2 separate regions of the Homo sapiens genome follow, and region 1 is linked to region 2. Evidence: fine-mapped expression QTL. Tissue or cell type: blood mononuclear cells. Region 2 holds a variant in brackets; the other region holds the start of a gene. All regions are shown on one strand. Distances are between the middles of the regions.

What was found. PIP is the estimated chance that this variant, and not a neighbour inherited with it, causes the effect.
Region 1: RNPC3 starts here. The variant in region 2 is the best candidate, but not a certain one, in a credible set for the expression of RNPC3 in blood mononuclear cells (TOPMed, PIP 0.87).

Annotation. Positions count from the first base shown.
Region 1 is chr1:103,521,853-103,530,505 of GRCh38, forward strand. It overlaps RNPC3 (RNA binding region (RNP1, RRM) containing 3), which reads left to right and starts at 3,847. Exons shown (of 15, transcript NM_017619.4): 1 at 3,847-4,410; 2 at 5,843-5,890. The coding sequence starts at 4,219. It overlaps RNPC3-DT (RNPC3 divergent transcript), which reads right to left and starts at 3,656. Exons shown (of 4, transcript NR_168321.1): 1 at 3,544-3,656. It also overlaps the pseudogene RN7SKP285. RefSeq lists a silencer at 3,639-3,738 and an enhancer at 4,059-4,298.
Region 2 is chr1:103,549,917-103,558,569 of GRCh38, forward strand. It overlaps RNPC3 (RNA binding region (RNP1, RRM) containing 3), which reads left to right. Exons shown (of 15, transcript NM_017619.4): 13 at 1,025-1,157; 14 at 1,805-1,876; 15 at 5,118-5,323. The coding sequence ends at 1,864. It also overlaps a transcript of AMY2B not described here. Among named protein-coding and RNA genes, the nearest start is that of AMY2B, 17 kb to the right of the region's middle. RefSeq lists a silencer at 7,574-7,792. The variant C/T (reference allele first, on the strand shown) is at 5,147.

The DNA.
Region 1 (8,653 bases), 28 kb before region 2:
AAGGTCACCATCTAAGAATGAAAGTGGGAAGGATTCAAGGTGACAGGAAATAGGAGAAAGCATGGAGTCAAAGATTTACTAGAGTAAGGCAATGAGAGAAAGTGAGATCGAACAGTAGGAGAAGTGGTGTGTTTTGGAAACCAAGGGAAGATAGCGTCTCAACGAAGAAGTGGTCAAGTATGCCAAGCATTGCTGAGAAGCTAAAATGAGAACTGAAAAGGCCTATTAGATTTAGTAACTGGGAGGTAACTAGTGACCCTAAGAAGAACTACCTTGTGGACTGATGGGATCAGAAGTCAGGAGCACACTTTGGAGTGAATGGGAGATGAAGAAATAAGAATAATTATGTCTCTCTCTTTAGAAGCTTGGCTATGAAGGGTGAGGGGAATGCTTTTGGCTAGAAGCCAGGACAAATATTGGGATCAACCCTTCTCCCTATTGTAGTTCTCCAAAGCATGCCAGAGATAGGACCCAGCAGTTTTCCTGTCTTCATGCGGAAAAATGGGGAGTTTGGGGGTAAAAGGGAAGATGTAATAGGGAAGTACAAGTAGCCATGTGGTCAAGTGAGGAAAACTAGGGACATAAACCAAAGGAAGCAAAAAAGGTAATTCTGTCTGAGAAGGTACTCAGTAACATGGAGGAACTGATGAAGATGAAAATTAACCCAAGAAAACCACCACATTAGCGGGGACCTCCATCAACACACAAAACCCCTGAGAATAAGAATGAGATAAAGAACCAACAATTGCTCAGTGAAGTCAGACACTCCCAAGCTCCACTACTTTTCCCGCCTCCCATTCCCCAACATAGAAAATCAAGACTGAAAATGAGTTAAATTCACAGTTCTCAAACTGTGCTAAGGTGCCCCAGGTACCCTTGCCACCTTATAGAGGTACTATAGGATATTTTAAATATTTGAGGGAAACATAGCAATACTCACTGTTTACCAGACACTACCTGAACTACCAGCTTGAGATGTTTCTCAATTTGAACATTAGATACTGTTTAATTCCTTTTAAGAATGTCATATATTTGAAAAGCTGGGTTTTTGGCTGTTGCTCTCATATAAAACAAGTGCTTCCTGGAAAACCAGAGTGGAATAGGAAATAAGGTGGCATCAAGGGGTGCTAGAAAAAACTGCTGGGACAATAAAGCTACCAATAACTGAAAAAGTTTGGCAACTTCTGGGCTAGACAAAGAGGAGGGAATGAGAAAGGTACTTCTCAGATACGACCACACATACCTACACTCAGACACAGAAAAGATTAGAGTGTATTACATATTCCTGCAATCCTTTAGGTCAAGCCTGATATGAGGGGAGTGTAAGAAGAGACACCTTAATGGAGTTTGGACTTGACATCTCTAACCAACTGTACTGATAGCAACTGAAAGTGACTAGAAAATTATGACCTCTACCTGAGATATTGTCAAGGAAAGGATAAGGTAGATTTCATTGAGTACAACTAAAAGCAATTAAGTAGAGAGAAAATAAAATTCTGTCATGTAACTATTCCACTCAGTCATGATACCTGAATTACAGTAGATAATGACCATTAAACTCTGCCTGATAGCCCCTGTAGTAATTCCTAACCGTAGGAGGCAGTGGTAAATATAAAAGTGAATTCCTTCATGCATTCATTCATTGAATAGATATTTACAGAATGTGCACTATGTCTGGAACATTTTACTAAACATAAGAGTCACAGGGAGGATGTGACGGTCATTTTGCATGACACCTGTCACCAACTGATCCCAACAGTTGATTTGGCTGATCTGGCTAACTAGCTGGGTTCCCCTTCCTTCCTAACTGCCCCATATATGTCTCTTCCAAAGCTGCCCACTCGGCTGAGGAGGATGACTTACCCCCATAAAGGAGGATGATTTTTCTGTAAGGGCATACGTGTAGCAGTGCTCCCTTGCTAGAAGCTCCAAACAAGTCTTCAAAGAACACACACAAAAAAGCCGCTGAAGGATAGTGTTTAAAATAGCATGACCACTCCAATCGGTTTATAACACTACCCTATTTTTTCCAAAGCACTTATTATTCTCTGAAAAGAACTTTATTTACATATTTATTCTGTCTTGATTTTAGAAAGTAAGCATTGAGAGGGCAGGAATTGATTGTCTTCTTCTTCTTCCTTGCCTCAACTTCTCAACATCTGCATGTCCCATGACTCCATTATGGGCACAATTCTATCTATACCCTTTGTCATTCTTCAGATATAAATACCATATAGGTTGATGCCATACCTCGTGGTAACCTTTCCCAAGAATGCCAAACACACACATTCAACTTCCTACTTGAAACAGGGATACTGAATAGATACCTTAAACTTAATATATGTTCCTCTATTCCCAATGTCCCACTACAGTTTCTAACCTAGCTATACTTGGTCAATCTTCTCACATTCAGTAAATGGCATCATCATCTACAGATGGATAATATCTAGCTTAAGCCAAAAATCCAGAATTTATCCTTGCTTACTATTCTTCATCTGCAAGTTCCTATCAACTACTTCTAAAACGTATCTCAATTCCAGTTCCTTCTCTACATGTCCACTTTCACCAAACTATTATGGTAGTGTTTTTCTCCAGACTTCTACAGTAGTCCAACTGGTCTTTCTGCTTCTGTTTTTTGCATTGCAACCGGAGAAATTTTCATACCTAAACTTTGATTCTCTCCCCTCAACACACACCTACTTAAAGAATTTGTCAGTTTCTAAATGTTCCTCAAATAAAAAGGGCTCCTAACAAATCTACAGCGTCTACGTGGTCTGGCTCTACCTATCTGATATTTTGGTGGGTGTGTGGGGAAGGTTCTTCTCATGTTTGTCTTCTAGTTTTCATTAATATCTGTCTCTCTCCTTTTCCCCAACCAATGCGGGATGACAGCAGATTGCTGGTATACTGCTTACTGCTGTATCTCTAACATTTATTTAAGTGGCAAAAAGAACTGTAAGAGGAACTCTGGTTCTCCAGACTGTAGCAGCTACATCTAGCATAAAACCTCTCTTTAGAATCCTCAAGGCCCTCTCTGTATGGGGTGAGGGGTACATTCCTGACCCTCCGGGGATGATCCCTGCCTCACTCCATTCAGAATCTAGGCAGAACAGTGGATTAGAATGTAGACCCCCAGTCAGAACACCAAGGGTCAAAACTTAGTTCTTCCACTTTCTAGCTGTGTGATTTAACCTCTTTGTACATCAGTGTCCTCAGCTGTAAAATAGGGAGAAAAGTACCTACACCTACACACACACACACATACACACACACACACACACACACCCCTACACACACACACATACACACACATGCAATAATTTATTTATTAGGTTACCTCTCCCTAGAGGCTGCCATTTCTGCGAAATGAACCCTGGCAGGGGCCTATCCGTCTGCTAAATGCCTACTGATTCAAGAAAAAAGTCTGAACTCTCAACGTTTTGCCCCTTAAACTGAGTTCTCCTCCCTACAATGGTGTCTAATGAGTTGACAGAATAACTGGCTAGCTTTATATTTTACCATCTAAATACTGTAAGAACATACCCGGTATTTCCACACCCAAGTTCTCCTCCTTGCTATTCAGGCCAATTCACTTTCCCAAGGCCAGGGATTAAGAGCCGCACGGTCAGCTCCAGATAGCGCTCGCCGCCGTGCGCCCCGCCCCGCCGTGCGCCCCGCCCCGCCGTGCGCCCCGCCCCGCCGTGCGCCCCGCCCCGCCGTGCGCCCCGCCCCGCCGTGCGCCCCGCCCCGCCGTGCGCCCCGCCCCGCCGTGCGCCCCGCCCCGCCGTGCGCCCCGCCCCGCCGTGCGCCCCGCCCCGCCCTGTGACGGTCCCAGCCCGCACATGCGCAGTCGTGAGTCCTCTTGTCCTTGAGCGTCAACCTTCTTTCCCTGAAGTGGCTGGGGTTCCTGTTTCCTTCTTTGATTGACAACTTGTGTTAACCCTCGCACATCTCTGGGCCAATTTTTGCTTGTAAGTCTTTCCGGAGACCCCTGGAATTTAAATCATTAGCACCGCGCCCTTCCCCGAAGAGTCTTCGAAGGGTTGCCGCTTTTCGGTGGCGCAGTTCTCGCGAGAAGGTGACTTTCTTTCTCGGTATTTCCTGGTTTCCAGAATCCTTAGCGCGAGGCGGAAAAAATATTTCTCCCAGCTTGTGTTGATGCCGCGATTTTGACTGAGACTTCTTCCCACGATTTCTGTTTTTGCTTCTCCAAGGAAAATGGCAGCTCCCGAGCAGCCGCTTGCGATATCAAGGGGATGCACGAGCTCCTCCTCGCTTTCCCCGCCTCGGGGCGACCGAACCCTTCTGGTCAGGCACCTGCCGGCTGAGCTTACTGCTGAGGAGAAAGAGGACTTGCTGAAGTACTTCGGGGCTCAGTCTGTGCGGGTCCTGTCAGATAAGGGGCGACTGGTAAGGGCGCGCCCCTCCGGAGTCTCCCGGGAAGGCATTTGGGAAGTGACCGGGGAGGGGGAGCGCTGACAAGAGTAAAATGGAAACGAGTGGGGAAGATGGACTTGTGTGATGAGAGCTCCCCCATCCTACCTCTTTTTTATCAAAATATCTGCTCTGCGAAGTGGAGTTTTAATCGGCTCGAGTCTGGATTAGTCATAGCACTGCAGAAAAGGGCAAGTGAGAACGACAAAGCAGAAGAATGGAAATTAGCTTAGTTATATTGAGTTTTCGGATCCATCCTGAGAGCCTCACAACTTTTTTGAATTTGGGGTTATTTCTCCTGGACTCAAGAGTATTCTTACAAATGTGCATCAAGGGATTTTTTAAAGTCCTACTTCATTTATAAGCCAATGTTAAATCGTTCATTAAAATAGAGGAGAAGCTACATTGGTGACTTGCGTAAATTAAATGCAGAATTTCAACTAGAAAAAGAGGCTTTTCATAAAAATTTCCCGATGACATCTTTTAGGGAACAATTTTTTAGGGCTGTTAAGAGTACCTGTGTAGGAATTTACACAATTACTTTGTTTTGCTTTATATCCAAAGATATTTTAGATTTCTCTTCATTAAAATAGGAATAGCGATGGTGCAAGACTCAGTGGTTTTAAAGTTTCCCTAGGTGATTTTAATGTTAATGTGCAGCCCAAGTTGAGAGTTACTGAATTAGAAGAAAGACCAATTTTGATCAGTTTAAATGTCACTTATGCCTGCAAATTAAAAAAAAAAAATTATATATGGCTCAATTTAAGTACATCAGGTCATCGTGTATCAGATTAGACAAAATTAGAATGTGCGATATAATTATTAAAGTAACTTTTAATAAGCATTGACCAGAGCTCTTCCTTAGCATAGTGATTCTTTTACTGTTGATTTGTGTTTCTTTTCTGATGGTTTTTAAAATCCGTATAATTTATGTTTAAAAATAGACTTCTCCCATTGAACATTATTACAAAGATAAAGCACAAAGGAAATATGCACCTTGAAGAACGATTTCTCTGTTGGTGAATGTTTTTAAACTACGCATTGTTATGTATAGAGGAAAGTTTAAAATCTTTAGATCTGTCATAAATGAAGGAAATAAATTTTTAGTTGGTTAAAAGTGACCCTCTGTGTAGAACAGGTCTTTAAACTTTTGGTCTTTTGAACTATTTGCATGTGTAAAACGTGTGTCTTTATATGATAGAGGTTGCATAGCTTTCATCTCAAGTCTGACTCAAAAAGTATTGAAAACCACTGGACTGAAATTAGTAATCAGTTAAATGGTCTTGAGTTTTCATCCTTTCCCGTGATTTTATTAACATGTCACATTACTCCACTGGTAAAAAGTCAGATTTCTTTGTGAGAAACTGAAATTATATTGGAAGTAATTTGTACCTTAACTCTGTTTCAGAAACATACAGCTTTTGCCACATTCCCTAATGAAAAAGCAGCTATAAAGGTATGACTTTTTCTTGACGATTAAAGTTGTCAACAGGATCCTCTTATACAATCTTGGTTCAGATAATGTTTAACTGTGGTTTTTAAGAAGCAAAAGCGTTTGTATTCCAACAGTTTCCCCAACAGACTACATTTGATTTGTCAGTTGGCAGATCTTGCCCAGTCCTTTAGTAGATTATCTATAAAGAAAAACTAACTGCGTATGTAATTAAAATAACAATTTCTAAATGATTTAGATTGATAAATATCTCTGTGACTGTTACAAGGTAAGATGTTTCAAGTGTTAAAAGGAGAATATACATTTCTTTATAATGCCAGGGAATCATTCACAGGAGGTGATCTTTTAGCTAGAAGTCTAATGATTAATTGGATTTTTTCAGAAGGAAACAAGTGGAGATGGGCCTTCTGGGCTTGCAGAACACCAAATAAAGCTGTGAGACATTGGAAGTTATAAGTGGAGCAGGAGCTAAGGGTTGAGATGGAAATGGAACTTGAAAAATAGATTTGAGTCTGGGAGAGAGGTATTGAGTTTGGTTTAGTAGGTGGACACTTGATACTTTTGAGCTGGCTCATAATATGATCAGGCCTGTTAAAGATATCTGGTATAGTTCATATCATGGATTGGATGTGCAGAATTATTAGAGGTAGGAGACCAAATGGAAGGCTGTTATAATGGCCAAGGCAAGAATAACTATCTGAAGAAGACAGTAAGAAGACAAAGGGGGAAGTAAATATATATTCAATAGAGATTGAGTTTGTAGGTTTTATAATATAGGGGTTGAGAGAGAATAGTTCAGGATATTTAGATTGAGGATTGAGTTATTTGGGTTGTTATATTAGCTGACATGAGGATCCAGAGGATGTTTGCAAAGGCATAGGATGAATTCACTTGTCATCTGTTAACTTGGAGGGGTCATTGGGCTACTTTTATGGAAATATTTAAAAATATTAATGAGAGCTGAGGCAAGGTGAAGAATGGAAAGATTCTTCAACCATGTGAATAGATATGTTTGCCCAAAGGATAATAAGCTAGGAGAGAAGAATGGGAAGGAGCAGTTAAAGTAGGAGAACTAGAAAGGAAATTATCACTGATGCAAAGAGAAGTGTGTTTTAAGAAGATGAAATCCTGTGATGATGCAAAATGAGGAATGAACACATCTATTAAAGTCTTTTTGCCATGAAACAATAGAAATGACCCAAATTCTCATCGGTAAAAGGAAGGGAAGCCTTAAATCACATTATATCCATATACTGGACTGCAACTGTCTGAGAATGATGTCAAATGGTATGTGTTAATATGGAATGATAGCCCAGATAGAGTACATGAATAAAGTTGTGAAACATTATATATGATGTAACCTCAGATTTTTTGAAACTAATAGTATACATGTTAGCATATACACAGAAAAAATATGGCAGAACTATACACCAAAATGTTAAAAACATCTTTCTCTGAGAGTAGGATTACAGAGGGCTTTCATATTATATTAATATGTACTTTTATAATGGTAGGTAATTTTTTTTCAGAAAAAAAGTATTTTTAAAAATATATCATAATACATTGTAAATAAAGTATGGTAATGAAAAACGCATTGTTTTAGGGTCAAGAATAACTTGGAGGAGAGGACATGGAGCCAGTCATTGTCTTTGGAAATGTCTGTAGTGAAAGGAAGCAGTAAGAGGTTAACGGCAATATTGATAGGGCTTTTAGGCTAGAGAGCATTTGGCCTAATTGGAAAGTGATAGATTAAGAAAACAAAGGGAGAAATGTTCAAGAATAGAGTAAGTAGCCGAGTCAGGTAGGAGGAGTTAACATTAAAAATGAAAAACCATAAATCTTTGAAAATAAGAACATATGTGATACCCATTTGAGAAGAAGAAAGTTGGAGTAAGTCAGGTTAGATGACCTTCATTTCAGATAATCAAGGCTTCACTGATAATAAAGAGGTCTAAAGTTCATTTAGGGTCTTGAAAATTATTGAAACATTTTAAAATTAACTTTGTATGATGATGTAAGGCAGGGATCCTCAAACCCTGGGACACAGACTGGTACCCAGCCACGGCCTGGTACCTAACCACCACCTGTTAGAACCTGGGCCGCACAGCAGGAGGTGACTGGCAGGCTGAGGAAGCTTTATCTCTATTCAGGGCGACTCCGCCTGGCTGCCTGAGCTCCACCTCCAGTCAGATCAGCAGTGCCTTGGCCCCTGTTGTGAACTGCACATGCAAGGGATCTAGGTTGCGCTCTCAATGAGAATCTGACTAATGCCTTATGATCCGAGATGAATCAGTTTCATCTCGAAACCATCTTCTCCCCACCCCCCACCCCAGCCTGTGGAAAAATTGTCTTGCACAAAACCGGTCTCTGGTTAAGGCTTGTACTTTCATGTGTTCAAAAATATTAAGTACCTACTATGTGCTAGATGCTGATTTAGGTTTTGGGATTATATGTGAAGACAAAGATGATTATAGTTCATATTCTCAAAAGGGGAGACAGACAATAAATAATAAACTTTAATATTTTAGAAGATGATAAATGCTATGGAAAAAGGACAAGTAGAGCAATAAGATCAGGAGTGCTAAGTGGGGAGAGGTCAGGCTGTAGTTAGGGTTATATTTGAACAACAATTTGAAGGATGCGAAGGGAGTTAGCTAATGAAATTTCTGGGAGAAGTACCTTTGAATTAGAGGAACAGCTGGAACAGGGGCTCTAGGATGTGACCATGCCTGTCACGTTGTTCAAGGAAGCCACTGTGACTGGAGC
Region 2 (8,653 bases):
CATTGGGAGGCCGAAGCGGGGGGGATCACTTGAGGTCAGGAGTTCAAGACCAGCCTGGCCTATATAGTGAAACCCCATCTCTACTAAAAATACAAAAATTAGCCAAGCATGGCGGTAGACGGCTGTAATCCCAGCTACCCGGGGGGCTGAGGCAGGAGAATCGCTTAAACCCAGGAGGTGGAGGTTGCACTGAGCCAAGATCACGCCACTGCACTCCAGCCTGGGCAACCAAGCAGGACTCTGTCTCAAAAATAATAATAATCATAATAATAATAATATAATGAATTCTATAATTGCTTATAACTGGCTGTTAATCCTTTCTATTTTTCCATTCTTGGTTATGTAGTAGTAGTTGTTTTTTTAATCACTTGAGCAGATAGTGCCAGATTGTAAGGAACTTAAAAAATTGAGATAAATAGTAATTTAAGAAGTTTGCAGCCAGTGCGGTGGTCCACGCCTGTAATCCCAGCACTTTGGGAGGCCGAGGCGGGCAGATCACGAGGTCACGAGGTCAGGAGATCGAGACCATCCTGACTAACACGGTGAAACCCCATCTCTACTAAAAATACAAAAAATTAGCCAGGCGTGGTGGCGGACACCTGGAGCCCCAGCTACTTGGGAAGCTGAGGTAGGAGAATGGCGTGAACCTGGGAGATGGAGCTTGCAGTGAGCGGAGATCATGCCACTGCACTCCAGCCTGGGTGACAGAGTGAGACTCTGTCTCAAAAAAAAAAAAAAAAAAAAGAAGTTTGGTTTTCTAGTTGCTAATAGTATAATTTTTAAATCACATACTTTTATGATAGTTGAGAATAGTTAAAAGTATATCTTAAACAAATACTACCTACTTGTAGAATCAATTTTAGTGCAGAACATGAAATATATTTTTAGAAAACTGAATAATTGACGTGCCTATCAAATAGTGTAGTCACTTTTATTTGAAATAGCAAAATGTTAGATTATTCAACACATTTTCATTCACATTGAAACTGACATTCTTTGAATCAAAACTGTTTCTTCCTTCTAGGTTTGATATACGTTTGATGAAAGAAGGTCGTATGAAAGGACAAGCTTTCATTGGACTTCCTAATGAAAAAGCAGCAGCAAAAGCCTTAAAGGAAGCTAATGGATATGTGCTTTTTGGAAAACCCATGGTGGTTGTATCCTTTAAATCCATCTATTTCAAAACTATATAATTTTTAGAAGGATATAACTGAAATTAATTTTCATGTTACCCTTTAGAAATTTCCACAATTGGCATTCTAGCAGTAGATATTCATTCGTTACAATTAAACCCACCTTACTGAGTCAGATGACAGTGTTATTTAGATTTTTAATAAAAGAGCTTCAGCAGCATGAGGTTGTTCAATTTCAGCCAAGTTTAAATGTTTCACTTATGCAGCTCAAAAGTACATAGGCATGCTAAGAGACTAGAGTATCCAGAAGTACATTTGGAGTCATAAAAGAACTAATTCATTTTATCATTTTATTGTAATTTATATTTCTACATGAGAATTTTAATAACTAGAGTATATCATTGATTAACCATCTTGCTTTTAGTAGTCAATGCAGTTTGCAAACTAGAAATCAGCAAGATAGGTAAAGAAGCAAAGGCCCAGGTATAAAAAATAATGACTGTAAAGGAAAAGTTAATTATTAATTTCCTCTCAAGTCATGAAGAGAGGCAGGAGGCACTCAAGGTAAATTAAAAAACCATACTCCCACCATACACTAGAAAGTTTTTGAGAATTATTTAGAAAAGATTACTTGCATATTCATGAAGGAAACCTTAATTTTAAATTATTAGCAGTTTGCTCGATCTGCTAGACCAAAACAAGATCCTAAGGAAGGAAAAAGAAAGTGTTAAAAATTAATAAAGGTAAGTGTGAATAAAACATAATAAAAAGACAAGACTAATTCTTGAGATAAAATTAAGAATAAAAGTTTGACAAGGTAGTAATTCAGGTATCTCTTTTTTTTTTTTTTTGAGGAAATACCTATCTGTGCAGTTAAGTCCCATTAAACGTCAAAACTATAACTACAGATTAAAACCCATTTATATGTGAAAATTAAGTTTGGAGAATGAATCTTATAAGGGGAGTGTGCCTGTTACTCTTTTTTTAACTTTTTCTGCCTATAGTAAAGCAATGGTTCTTAAACCCTAATATGTATCATATCACTTGGAGAGCCTAATAAAACACAGATTCGTAGGTTCCTTCCTTCCCTGAAAGAGTTGATTTGGTAGGTCTGATGTGGGGACCTAGGGAAACTGTTTATACCAGTTTTCCTTTTAATGAGGGGATTTCCAGGATGCTGGACATTTAGTGCTGAAATGGGGAATGTGTCTGGTAAGCCAAGACAGGTCGGTCACCCTTGTTGGCACCTGAAAATTTGCGAGATTAATGAGGTTTCAGGTAATGATGAGGCATCTTATCCAGAGACCACAGCTTGAAAACTCCTGGAATAAACACTTACAGATACATTTTCTAACTCTTAAAATTAACCTAAAGTAAATGTTAAAATAAAAGTTAAAAAAAAAAGTCAAACTGTCATTAAAAATAATTCTGGCTGAGCACGGTGGCTCACCCCTGTAATCTCAGCAATTTGGGAAGTGGAGGTGGGCGGATCACAAGGTCCAGAGATCAAGACCATCCTGGCCAACATGGTGAAACCGACTCTCTACTAAAAATACAAAAATTAGCTGGGTGTGGTGGCGCCTACCTGTAGTCCCAGCTACGTGGGCGGCTGAGGCAGGAGAATCGCCTGAACCTGCGAGGTGGAGGTTGCAGTGAGCCGAGATCAAGATCACGCCACTGCACTCCACACTGGCAACAGAGCAAGACTCCATCTCAAAAAAAAAAAAAATCTACAGTGCTGAGTATATAAAATTATTAACACATTTCACAACAATATGTGTTTGTGGAGTTAAATATTTTTTGTCTTTAAAACAGGTAATTTTAGTGCATACTTAATTTGATGATTAAATATGGTAGAATTAAGCATTTTAAATGTTAATGTTTGTTACATTGTTCAAGAAATAAGTAGAAATATATTCCTTTGTTTTTTATTTAAATTTTTGTTCCTCTGTAAACTAAAAGAACACGAAGTAATTGGTCACAATTACTGGTGTTTAACTGCCAAATATGGGTAAATAAGGGAAAATTTTGTTTAATATTTAGTCCTTCTGAGATGGCTTGAATATTTGAATTTTGTTGTACGTCTATACTGGGTAGTCACAAGTCTTATAAACACTTTAGAGGAAAGATGGATTTCAGTCTGTATTTTTAAACATCATTTATTTTAAATCTGGTGCTGAAAAATAAGAAAAAAATTAAACTGCATTCTGCTGTTCTTCTTTAGAAGCATTCCTGCGTAAATACTGCTGTAATACTGTCATGCAAAGTGTATCCTTTCTTGTCGTATCCTTTTTGGGGCAGTGTTTTTTTGTTTTTTTCCTAGAAATGTTTGTCCTTCCCCCACCTGTTGATCCAGGTTAAGGAATACTTTTTTACACTTTATTCAAATGAAATATTTCTAAAATTATTTGTATAGACTGAACAGATCTTTTATGTGTTTTTAGATTTGTTGTTGAATTTTCTGTGCTGTCCTTTATATAATTTTTTGAGGGAAAGTTAGTGAATCAGGTCAACTTACTTAGAGAATGTGTTCATTTACTTTAACCCAGAATACAGTCTTGTTTCTTCTATTTGTATGTTTCCTAAACCTAATTCAATAACATATGCTTTCTGTTGTGTAATATATCTGGTTTAGGTATTTATAATGTGTTTAAAATTTGGGCAAAGGAAATGTTTTTCTTTTAAAAAGTACTTACATTGAAAATTAAGATGTCTGGATTACTATGTAAATTCTAGAGAGTAGCAGACCTCTCATCTGAAGTCTTAGTGAATCTCTTTTGACATAGATAGCAATAGAAGTATCTTTCTTCTTTCCCCTTTCTTTTTCTAAACAAGAGAAGAAAAGCGTAATAGAGGGGAGAACACATAATGCCCACTAAGGGTAGTGCATTAAGGAAAAACAGTCTTGGCAGGTATATAGGAATAGTGGTTTCCAGACTGGTTGATGACCGTAATCACCAAGAACAGTGGTTCTCAGTCTTGGCTGCACATTGCAGTGATCTGGAACTTAAATACTAATTTTAAAAGGGTGCAGTGGCTCATACCTGTAATCCCAGCACTTTGCAAGTCCGAGATGGGAGAATCACTTGAGCCCAGGAGTTTGAGACCAGCCTGGGCAATGTAGGGAGACCCTGTCCCTACAAAAAATACAAAAATTAGCCAAGTGTGGTGGCTTGCACCTCTGGTCTCAGCTACTTGGGATGCTAAGGCAGGAGGATTACTTGAGCCCCAGAGGTTGAGGTTGCAGTGAACCATGATCACACCACTGCATTCTAGCCTGGGTGACAGAGTGAGACCCTCTCCCTCCTAAAAAAATCCTTAAGAAATATATTGATGCTTGGTTCCTTTGGTCAGAATTTTGATTTAAGGTGTTGGGAGTGTAGCACAGATGTTGGAATAAACCTCTCAAACTGATTTTAATATACAAACAAGGTCGAGAACCACCAAGGAAGAGTTTTTATGCATAAAGATTCCTGTACTCTACCCTAGAACTAATACATCTGAATCTCTGGGAATGGAGTATAACAATCAGATTTGAAAAGGTTTCTTTAGTAATTTTAAGGACTGACCAGTTTAGACACTGCTTTGTTAGAGTAAAATGATTAGGTACCTAGTATCAACCTAGCCATCCAACCTTATATTAATAACTAGGAAAATAAAGGGTTGGAGCCTCTGTGTTTCTTTGTTGAAAAATCTGCTACTATTATTAGATCTGTGAAAACAATTGAAAATTCGGTTATTATCACCTTAAAAGTACAAAACCTATAGATTTTGAAAATGTAATTATTTTTCTGTAGGCATAGTTAAAAAGATTTTGTAAATGTTATAAATCAGTTTCTTTATAAGCGGTTTATTTAGATAAATTTTGTTATACTGACATGATTCACTAATTTTCTAAATATAAATGGTTCAGCTCTTAGTTATTTTTAAACTAATGACCTGTGTTATACTTCCTATTTTTAATGGGCTTTTATGATGTTTTAGGTTTTTTTGAATCCCGTGTCCTTCAAGTG[C/T]TTTCTAACTTTGAGAGGAAGAAATTGACCACCTGGACTATGGAACTGTGCGTAACAGCTTTGAAAGTGTATTTAAAAATTAAATCTATATGCCTTTAAATCAGTGAATTGGAAACATATTACATGTATTTTAATGATTTTCCTCAAATATAATAAATTGTTTCCTTTCCAATAAAATAGTGTTTGTATTTTTTCTTTATCTGGTTTAACACATCTAGGAAAACATAATATTATAAAAAATATATATAATTTGTAATATAATTTTTTTATGATTACAAATACTGCCTTTTAAAAATTCTTACCTGGATACCAAAGCACTTTCACATTTTTTTTATTGTAATCTTGTTTTTTGTAATTATTTTATATTTGTCTGGCTTTGAGTTTTACTGGGCTTTTGGTTTTTTGGAAATGGGGGTTTATCCCAATTTAGAAATTTGTATCCTTGCTGTAATACAGTCTTCCATTTTTGTTCCCCCAAATCTTTCATCTGTCAGAACGTCACTCAAAGGTGAAAATATTTCCCACATAAAATTATTCTGTTCCTTTAATGAAATGAGTTTCAGCTGTATATACGTAGGAAAACATTCTTTTTTGTCAACTTGACGTTGACAAACTTGGTGGATGTCAGGAGTAAGGGTATTCAAGAGAATTTTGAAGAAGAATTTAATATAGTGAGTATCGAAGACAACTCTTAAAGAGTCTTGCGTTCAAGGGGTTGTGAGAAATGGGTTGTTAATGGAGGGCAATGTAGTATCAAAAAGCTGTTTAAGATTGATGATATAGCAGGTTTGTATGCTAATCAGACTGATTCAGTAGAGAGAAAAAACATAATGCCGGAAAGAGAGGGATATTGCTGAAGCCATAGACCTGGTATACAAATAGAAGGGTTCGTTTTAAAGATAGGCACACAAACAGCTCATTAGTAACGGTAGGATGAAGGGCAGATTATGGAGTTCTAGATGTCGGTAGTTCAGTAAATAGGAGCATGTCAAATTTTTGTTATATTTTCTCAGAGAAATAGGAAACAAGGTCATAAAGAGGGAGGAAGTCATGAAGGATTAAGGAAGGAAAAGGAGATGTAAAATGGGTATCCAGGAATGTAGGAAAGTAAACATACTCTTAGGCAATCTGTGGTTTATTTAAGTGGTATCAGTCAATGTGGTTTTGTGTTTTTCTCCAGTTGAGTTCAGCATAGGTGCTATCACTGAAAAAGTACAGAATTCAATTTAACTAAAGTTGAGATTTCCCTAGGTGAATAAGACAGTGATGAGATGTTGTTACATTTAAGAGAAAGATAATAAAAGAGAGATATGGAAAGTAATCTGGGTTAAGGAGTGAAGTGAGAAAATAAAGAAGGTTGAGACAGTGGAAAATGGTATCATCAATTGTAGATTGCAGTGTGGTTGAAGATGCATTGGAGTTCTTGAGGTACAAACTAGAAATTTGGGAGATTTAAATAAGAGTGGGGTGGCTGAAATTGAAATTAGAGTATAATAATATATAATAGTACTAAGTATAGTATACTAAGTATAGTATAATAGTACTAAGTATAGTATACTAAGTATAGTATAATAGTACTAAGTATATAGTACTTAGTGATTATAAGTTTTAGGATGTGAGGATGGGAGTAGCATAGAGGCAAGGTGATGGAAGGAGATGAATTCAAGAAATTGGGAACCTAGGAGATTGAAAGCATTATCTAAATGAATTTTGAAATCTCAACAAGAACTGTGCTGAGTGCTTTTTGTAATTATTTTATCTTTACTACCCTGTGAGAAGACAGCACTTCCTTTTGTGAGTAATGGAAAGCTCTTTAATGTGTCAACTGTAAGATACTTTATTACATTTAATTATCTTTAGTAATTCATGCTAACAAATAATGACCTCAGTAGGATTATTCAGTAGATATGTGAGCTAACCCCCTGTGTCAGACACCTAAGAGATACAACTGATGATTTTCAAGAAGAATAGAGTTCTCATCCCAAGTACTTAAGCTGCAAAATGTCCCACCCTATATTTTCTGAAAACAAACGGTATATAGAGCGTCCATTTAAAAGCTAATAGGAAATCTTAAAGCGTGCGCGCGCGCACACACACACACACACACACATACATACATACATACATACACACAAAACATTGAATAAGCATCAGGAAATATATACCCTGTACCCAACATGCACAAGGTCTAAGCAATGAAGAAAAAGCCAGGATATCAAGTAAGACTGGAACATCTGTGACTAATATATAAAGACTTGAGGTGGTTGTATCTATTTAAAAGGTTATCAATTAGAAATTAAGAAAGAGGCCAGGTGCAGTGGCTCACGGCTGTAATCCCAGCACTTTGGGAGGCCAACGCAGGTGGATCAACGTGAGGTCAGGATTTTGAGACCAGCCTGGCCAACACGATGAGACCTCGTCTCTACTAAAAATACAAAAAAAATTGCTGGGCATGGTGGCTCATGCCTGTGGTCCCAGCTACTCGGGAGGCTGAGGCAGGAGAATCATTTGAACCCGAAGGTGGAGGTTGCAGTGAGCCGAGATTGGGCCACTGCACTCCAGCTTCAGTGATGGAGTTAGATTAAAAAAAAAAAAAGTATTTTACATAAGAAATTTTAATTTTTTGTAAATTATAAAATAGCACTTAATATGGTATTTGTATACCGTGATCTTTGAATATCCAAAATTTAAGAAGATGTGAGCAGTTTTATGAAACTTTTCAAAGCTTAGAAAAAGGTAACTACATAAAATTCCATTATATGTTATTTATGGGAACATTAGATGAAGTAAGTCATAAAAACATGCATAGAAATGATCATACAAACTTGGAAGAAATTGAATGTCTTGCTATCGAAGGAAAGGATGGAGGTGAGAAGCTCTATATATTGTATTTTTCTTTATATATTTAAACTCGCATTTCTTATTTTTCAAATGTTCACTCCAATGAAAATTCTTTTATTTTTCCTGTTAGTTTTTATTTCTGATCTCATATATGCAATATACTATTGTTCATAAATATTAGTGATCCGCCCTGCAAATGAAATACTCCCATCCTGTTGAATTTGGGAATGTCCATGTGATTTGTTTTGGCTGTGAAATGTGAGCAGAAAGATTGTTTTACTTTGGGGAGTTCCCGATTGCTAAAGCATGTGTCAAAATGAAGTTTTTGTGACATTACAAAGGGACTAATAAGAGTGCCTTTGTTGATCCTAGTTGAACATGAGAAACTTGGTTATTGTAAGCCACTGAAAAATTTTAGTTTCTTTTATTACTGCAGAATAACCTATTCTGTCCTGATTGATACAGCCACAACATTTCCTTAAGCTCTTTGATTTTCATATTTCCATTAGGATGTAGAAAGTCAAGAGAAGAATAAATCATAGGATCAGAGAATATTAACAGTGAAAGAGACTATTGGAATGAACTTGTTCAATGGTCCAGACTTTGGGTTCTAAATAATCAGTAATATTTCAAAAAAAAGTATTAAAAGATATTTCAGTATAAAAA